Homo sapiens: one gene and its partner. The protein of the gene in region 2 interacts with the protein of the main gene of each other region in a biochemical or structural test. Each region holds a gene or a part of one and is shown on either strand. Other genes may lie near its edges.

Evidence for each region. Proteins that work in one complex are often made in the same cells at the same time.
Region 1: of the proteins of IKBKB (region 2) and RELA, one has a biochemical effect on the other in vitro, tested with the Homo sapiens proteins (4 studies listed by BioGRID and IntAct).

What each region holds. Positions count from the first base shown.
Region 1 is NC_000011.10:65,656,455-65,660,011, forward strand, and holds part of RELA (transcription factor p65), read right to left. Parts: intron 3,344-3,557; coding exon 3,212-3,343; intron 2,369-3,211; coding exon 2,264-2,368; intron 2,046-2,263; coding exon 1,833-2,045; intron 1-1,832. UniProt on the Homo sapiens protein: NF-kappa-B is a pleiotropic transcription factor present in almost all cell types and is the endpoint of a series of signal transduction events that are initiated by a vast array of stimuli related to many biological processes such as inflammation, immunity, differentiation, cell growth, tumorigenesis and apoptosis.
Region 2 is NC_000008.11:42,316,153-42,319,801, forward strand, and holds part of IKBKB (inhibitor of nuclear factor kappa-B kinase subunit beta), read left to right. Parts: intron 1-57; coding exon 58-187; intron 188-557; coding exon 558-752; intron 753-1,504; coding exon 1,505-1,619; intron 1,620-2,399; coding exon 2,400-2,523; intron 2,524-3,117; coding exon 3,118-3,269; intron 3,270-3,432; coding exon 3,433-3,494; intron 3,495-3,649.

The DNA of each region.
Region 1 (3,557 bases), on a different chromosome or scaffold from region 2:
ACAACCTCATCATCCCTCAAAAACTAGGTTCTTTCTCCTGCATTCCCTGACCATCCGCCATCTGCCCTGTCACCAAAGCTAGAAACCTTGGAATGATTATCTTCTTTTCTCTCACTCCCCGCCAGTAACTTGACATATATTTATCAAGCACCTACTATGTGCCAGCCTCCCTTCTAGACACTGGGGATGTGGCCGTGAGTATGCACACAAGGTGTCTGCTCCCAAAAAGTTGGCATCCTAGTGAAAAAGTGAGAGGGACACAATCATATATACAAACCAGAAAATCTCGGCCAGGCGTGGTGGCTCACGCCTGTAATCCCAGCACTTTGGGAGGTCGAGGCGGGTGGATCACGAGGTCAAGAGATCGAGACCACCCTGGCCAACATGGTGAAAACCCCGTCTCTACTAAAAATACAAAAAATTAGCCGGATGTGGTGGCGGGCGCCTGTAGTCCCAGCTACTCGGGAGGCTGAGGCAGGGAGAATCACTTGAACCCGGGAGGTGGAGGTTGCAGTGAGCCGAGATTGCACCACTGCACTCCAGCCTGGGCGACAAGAGTGAGACTCTGTCTCAAACAAACAAACAAAACCAAACCAGAAAATCTCAAGTGACGGTGGTCCAGGGACGATATGGTGATGTAACAATACTGGAAGTGAGGTCAGGACAGTCTAAATGTAGAGGGAAGGGCTAATTTAGAGGTCAGGGAAGGACTGGCATGAGCCACTTGCATTAAAACCTTGGGCATTCCAAGCAGAGGCAACAGCTAGACACAGGTCCTGAGGTGAGACTGAGCTTGGTCTGTAAGACGCAAAACGGCTGCAGGGCTGAAGGGTAACTGAGGACAGTGGTGGAGATGTGATCTTGCTCTGCTATTCCTTCTGTAAGGTTTGTGCCGCATCTTCTCTTCCTGGACTACAGCAACATTTCCAGAATGGCCTCCCTGCTTTGAGTCTGTCTGTCTCTGATCTTCTACACGTGGCCTCCTGAGTCAACTTCCAAATCTGCTCCTGTCACCTCTCTGCTTAGAGGCCTTCAGCTTAACCAGGCCCTCCAATCTCTGAGCCTGCTCACTGCCCAACATCAGCTCAAACCACGAAGGTGGCCCTGAATAGGCCGTGCAGTTGCCAACACCCCTTCCCTTCCAGGTGCTGGGCCACCTGCCTGGAGAACACACTTCTGTGTCTTTCTCCAGCTTCAATGCCACCTTCTCCATGCAGCTGTCTCCAGCTCCCCGGAGGCCACTGTGCCCCCGTGCTTCTCTGCGCACACCTCCATTTCACATGTCATTCCGTGACTTAAGGATCTGTTTTGCACATTTGTCTTCCTCAAGTGACTGAGACTCTGAAGGGCAGGGAGCATGTCTTACTCATTTTTTGTATTCACAATACCTGGCACAGGCCCTGGTACCAAGTGGACACTCAAACCTCGACCAAAATGTGGCTGGGCTGTATGGTAGTGACAAGACAACCAGTGTGGCAAAAGGATCCTGAAGCCAGATGGCCTGGGTTCCAACGCTGACTCTGCTAGACTCTGCTACTTACTAGCCACGTGAACCCAGGCAAGTTGGACACTATCTCCTACTTCAAAAGGGTCATGAGATTAAAATCAGGTAATCCAGTGAAGTGCCTGGAATAGGGGCAGATGTGTAGTACTAGCTCAATGTCTGAGGTATCATTATTATTAAATGAGGCAAGAAATGGATTCCAGTTTCTTGGATCCCAAGCTCTGACTCCAGCTTCTGGCCCTCAACCACAGCCCCAGACATGCAGTCTTGGCCTCTCTCTCACGGCACAGAGCCCAGCTGCCCTGATGCTGCCACCCCAGCTGTGTACCTGTATCTGGCAGGTACTGGAATTCCATGGGCTCACTGAGCTCCCGGTCGGAAGGCCGCCGCAGCTGCATGGAGACACGCACAGGAGCCTGCAGGCTGGGGTCTGCGTAGGGAGGGGTCCGGAACACAATGGCCACTTGTCGGTGCACATCAGCTTGCGAAAAGGAGCCTCGGGCCTCCCAGCCTGGTCCCGTGAAATACACCTCAATGTCCTCTGCAGGAGATGCGGTGGCAGTGTGGGTCAGTGTGTCTAACCCTCCATGGTCTCCCCCTCAACTTCTGATGCTTGTCTTCTGATACATCACCCTTCGGCCCACCTGAGGCCCCCGAGGCACAGGAGGAAGTATCCAAAGCCAGTTACCTGACACTCCACTTCTCTGCTCAGCTTCACCCCTTGCTCCCAAGAGCCCACCCCTGCCTCCTGATGTATACCTTTCTGCACCTTGTCACACAGTAGGAAGATCTCATCCCCACCGAGGCAGCTGCCAGAGTTTCGGTTCACTCGGCAGATCTTGAGCTCGGCAGTGTTGGGGGCACCTGAGGCAGTGAAAACAAGGGAGGATGACCTGAGCCACGAGAGGTCCCCAGGGTGGCCTGCAGGAGATGCAACTTCCCTGCCCAGCCCAGAGTCAAGGTTGCCCAGAGCTTGCCACCTACACCTTTGTAGCCAAAGTCAGACCTTCTTATTAGCTCCTCACCCCAACCGATTCAACAAGTATTTGCCTACTGTGCACTCAACACTGATCTAAGCAAGAATACGACCACACACAAAACCCAAACCTCTCTGCTCTCCCGGAGCTTATAGTCCAGTGGGTGCCAATCTGATCACACTCTTTCTCCACCTGACCAAAGCAATCTTTAAGGCCAGTCCATACCCACCTTGGCAATGAGCCCTTCCCTCCTGACCCCCAGTTTATCCTGGTTTCCCATCCTTGGGGCTCCAGATTCGTTTTATTTCCATTCATCCTGCTGGTTACTTAACTAAAGACTGCAGCTGATCAGTCAGCCCAATTCATCTGTGGGCTTCCATCACTGAATCATCATTCTCGAACACTATCTTGTTCCTGGGAGTTCATTTCCTAGAGTCATTATCGCAGTTGTGGGCACACCACCTTCTCATCACACAATACTGAAAATGCCCATCTCCCATCAGACTCTCTGCTAGACTTCCTGCCAGGCCAGAGCTACACCTCAAGGACAGCTCTGGGTCTTCTTTGCCCTCTCTCCCCAGCCAACAAAGAGCTGGGCAGAGAAGAGTAGACAAATACGCAAGATGATTGAATGAAGCCAGAGCGCCTCTTGCAGGCCACACTCACCCCAACCCCCTTCCTCCTATTCAGGCCCACCCTCTCCCCTTCCTGCGTCTCCCTCGCTACTCACGATTGTCAAAGATGGGATGAGAAAGGACAGGCGGCAGGCGGAGGGGCCTGCCTGATGGGTCCCGCACTGTCACCTGGAAGCAGAGCCGCACAGCATTCAGGTCGTAGTCCCCACGCTGCTCTTCTATAGGAACTGCCAAGAAAACAGGCGATCAGGAGAGCAGGGGAAGTGGGGATATAGGTGCTATCAGTGGGGGCAGGGAGCTCTGCGCTGGGAGGGCCGCTGGTGCGTGTGTGAAACACAAGTCCTAGAGGAGGCAGAACCCAGCACTGACTCCACTGTGGCCTGAATGTCATGTCCCCTCCTGGGACTCAGTTTCCCAGTGGTAAAGTGGGAGAGTACTGAA
Region 2 (3,649 bases):
ACTGTAGCCCAACATTGGCTGGAAGTGTCTCCTCACACACTATGCTCCTCTCCACAGTGTCCTGGCTGAGCGACTGGAGAAGTGGCTGCAACTGATGCTGATGTGGCACCCCCGACAGAGGGGCACGGATCCCACGTATGGGCCCAATGGCTGCTTCAAGGCCCTGGATGACATCTTAAACTTAAAGGTGAGTGTGGAGCCAAGTTAGCCCTGAGGCAAAAGCTGGGGTCCCCAGTGGAACATGCAGTTCTTAGGACAGAGCAGGGGATGGGGCCAGCTGACCTAGTGAGGAAATTTAGGCTCCTGCATCAGTCTTTCTGCATAAGTAAAGAAAGGACAGTTGTGCTAATTGACATTGGCTATGAGGTCATAGCCACAGACAGGATTATGAAAGATGCAAATATGCGAAACATGGCACATGACCTCCCTCCCTCAAGCTAGGCCCTTGCTTTGTGTGGTTGGGAAATGTTGGGAGTAGCAGAGAGAGGACCTAGGCAAATAGATGGGCATTTCCTTGAAGAAATCGGTTTTCCAGTAACATCTGGGTTGTGTTGCAGCTGGTTCATATCTTGAACATGGTCACGGGCACCATCCACACCTACCCTGTGACAGAGGATGAGAGTCTGCAGAGCTTGAAGGCCAGAATCCAACAGGACACGGGCATCCCAGAGGAGGACCAGGAGCTGCTGCAGGAAGCGGGCCTGGCGTTGATCCCCGATAAGCCTGCCACTCAGTGTATTTCAGACGGCAAGGTGAGCCCTGGCTTCGTACACACCATCCTGTTTACCTTGGCTGTGCCTCCTGGGAAACTCAACACACTTTCAGATTTCAATTCTGCTTTGTCATGTAGTCTGTTAATCACACAGTGCGGATACCTGGCTGGTTTTTAAGTTGGAGTATGGTGTCCTCTGTGTGGCCTGATAGGAAACACAAATCTCCTTGCTGGACTTGTTACTTCCAAACCCTCCAAGACCGGTCTCTTGCCTTTATTGCAAAAAATGATGCTATAACACTCGAATCTCTCAAGTTGCCTGCTTGGCCCTCTTCCAAGTGTACTAAAAAAAAAAAAAAAAAGGATGCTGCACTTTCTTGAGTCAACTGAAAGTATTTATGATGGCCTCTGTGTACAGAACTGGGTTAGGCACCTGTGTTAACTATAGCTGTGTAAGACATGACCTCTGCTCAAAAAGACCTTCTCAGCTGACTTGTGGAGCTAAAGTTATCATATGAGAAATAATCATTGCATAGGGAAGTATATAGTGAATTTCTGAACTTCCCAGGGAAGACAGAGAGTAAAATAGAATGTAATACGTTTGTAAATAAAGAGTGTGTTCAGACAGTAAGTGTGGCTGGAAACGTTAAACACTTCATGGATGCTTCCTACTTGCTGGCTGAAGATGATGCTCTTGCTGAACAGTGGGGAAAGCTGTGGAACTTCTTCATTATCAGTTAGAAAAGAGAGGGTTGGATCCACAAGATTCATTTTGTCCTTGTCCCTTTGCAGTTAAATGAGGGCCACACATTGGACATGGATCTTGTTTTTCTCTTTGACAACAGTAAAATCACCTATGAGACTCAGATCTCCCCACGGCCCCAACCTGAAAGTGTCAGCTGTATCCGTAAGAATTTGTTATGTTTTGTTTTTCTAAATAATCCGTTATAATATGTGGGACAAGGCAGGGAAGGGAGACTGGACTAAGGAAGGGGGAGCCACGTAAAGGAAATTAATATCGCCAGTCCTCAGGGCAGCCTTCCTTATTTAGGACATGCAAGGAGTAGCCAGGCAAGAGAGAGTACAGGAAACCATTAGTTAATTTCAACCTCCTAGGACGGGCGTGGTGGCTCACACCTGTAATCCCAGCACTTTGGGAGGCTGAGGCAGGAGGATCACTTGAGCCCAGGAGTTCAAGACCAGCCTGGGTAATATAGTAAGCTCGCAAGTCTACTAAAAATTTAGAAATTAGCCAGATGTGGTGGTGCATGCCTGTAGTCCAGCTATTCAGGAGGCTGAGGCAGAAGGATCACTTGAGCCTGAGAGTTCAAGGCTGCAGTGAGTCATGATCACCCCCACTGCATGCCAGCCTGGGTGACAAGAGCGAGACCTTGTCTCAAAAAAAAAAAAAAAATTCTGTTGAAAATATATGGCCCTATATACATATGTGTCCAATGGTTCGTAAAGTGTTCCTTCAAATCAACAGCTACTTATTGACCACTGGTACATGCTGTTGGTACAAATACATGTATGTGACAGTAACCAGGCATAACACCCTCCAAAGTTACATGATCCTATAGTAGGTACAAAACGTGAAAGTGCCAGTAGTGTCGAAGGCAGGATATGGTTAATTGTAGGAGAGTTATTGTGGTTATTCTTTGACAATTGCTTGTGTCTCTGTCTCCAGTTCAAGAGCCCAAGAGGAATCTCGCCTTCTTCCAGCTGAGGAAGGTGTGGGGCCAGGTCTGGCACAGCATCCAGACCCTGAAGGAAGATTGCAACCGGCTGCAGCAGGGACAGCGAGCCGCCATGTAGCGTGCCAGGCTTTTTTTTTAAACTTAATTTATTTAAAATTCCTTGGTGGCTTTGGCCACAGGGAGGTGGTTGAGGCAGGGACCCAGAAGCAACCGTTATGAGCAACAAAAGGAAGACACTGGTTTGGATGGACGGGAAGCGGTTGGGTGGGCTGGACTGACGGAGGCCCCTTTAGACCTGGCGAGGTGAGTGTGGTTGGCACAGGGTGAGGAGTGTGGAACTGAAGCTGGGCTGGCCAAGCTGTGGCTGGTTTGGGAACCCAGAGGAGCTCACTACCATGTGGATTAGCAAAACTCCCCTGACCGTGCTGCTGGGGACTTACGGACTCTTTCCTCATTGTGACTCGTTTGCCAACATTATTGGCCTTTTGTGTCTTCCTTTGCCTGATGTCAAGTTTAGTGCAGAACCTCAGGCATTGCTGAGGGCTAGGAAATTGTCCTTGGGTTATAAGTGGCTGCTATAATAATAGTGATGATGATAATAATTATAGCAGGGACCTCCCTTGACATTTGAGGGGGTTTTGTTATTGTACAGGAAATGGAATTTGGATCCCAGAGATGCTCCAAGACTGTTCCTTGTGGTCCCTGCAGGATGAATCTCCTCCGAAACAACAGCTGCCTCTCCAAAATGAAGAATTCCATGGCTTCCATGTCTCAGCAGCTCAAGGCCAAGTTGGATTTCTTCAAAACCAGCATCCAGATTGACCTGGAGAAGTACAGCGAGCAAACCGAGTTTGGGATCAGTGAGTGTGCACTTTGCAATGAGTTTAAAGACACCATTTTTTTTTCTTTTTCTCTTTCTAAGGTTTCTTTTGTCCTATTATAATTGAGTTGCTTATTTCTGTTTCAGTTTTGTGGTGTTTTTATTTTGTTTTGTTTTGTTTTTCCTTCTCAATTTTTTTTCAGCATCAGATAAACTGCTGCTGGCCTGGAGGGAAATGGAGCAGGCTGTGGAGCTCTGTGGGCGGGTAGGAGACTCATTTTGGGTTTCGGAACTTACCAAGGGGGTGAGATTTTGTGCTCCCACTTTTCACTTTCTCATCAAACACTGGGTCGATCTCTGTCAAAAATCAGGTGTTCCTCACCATGCTTTGAGCTTAACTGGACCAGCTGAAAAGAGGCC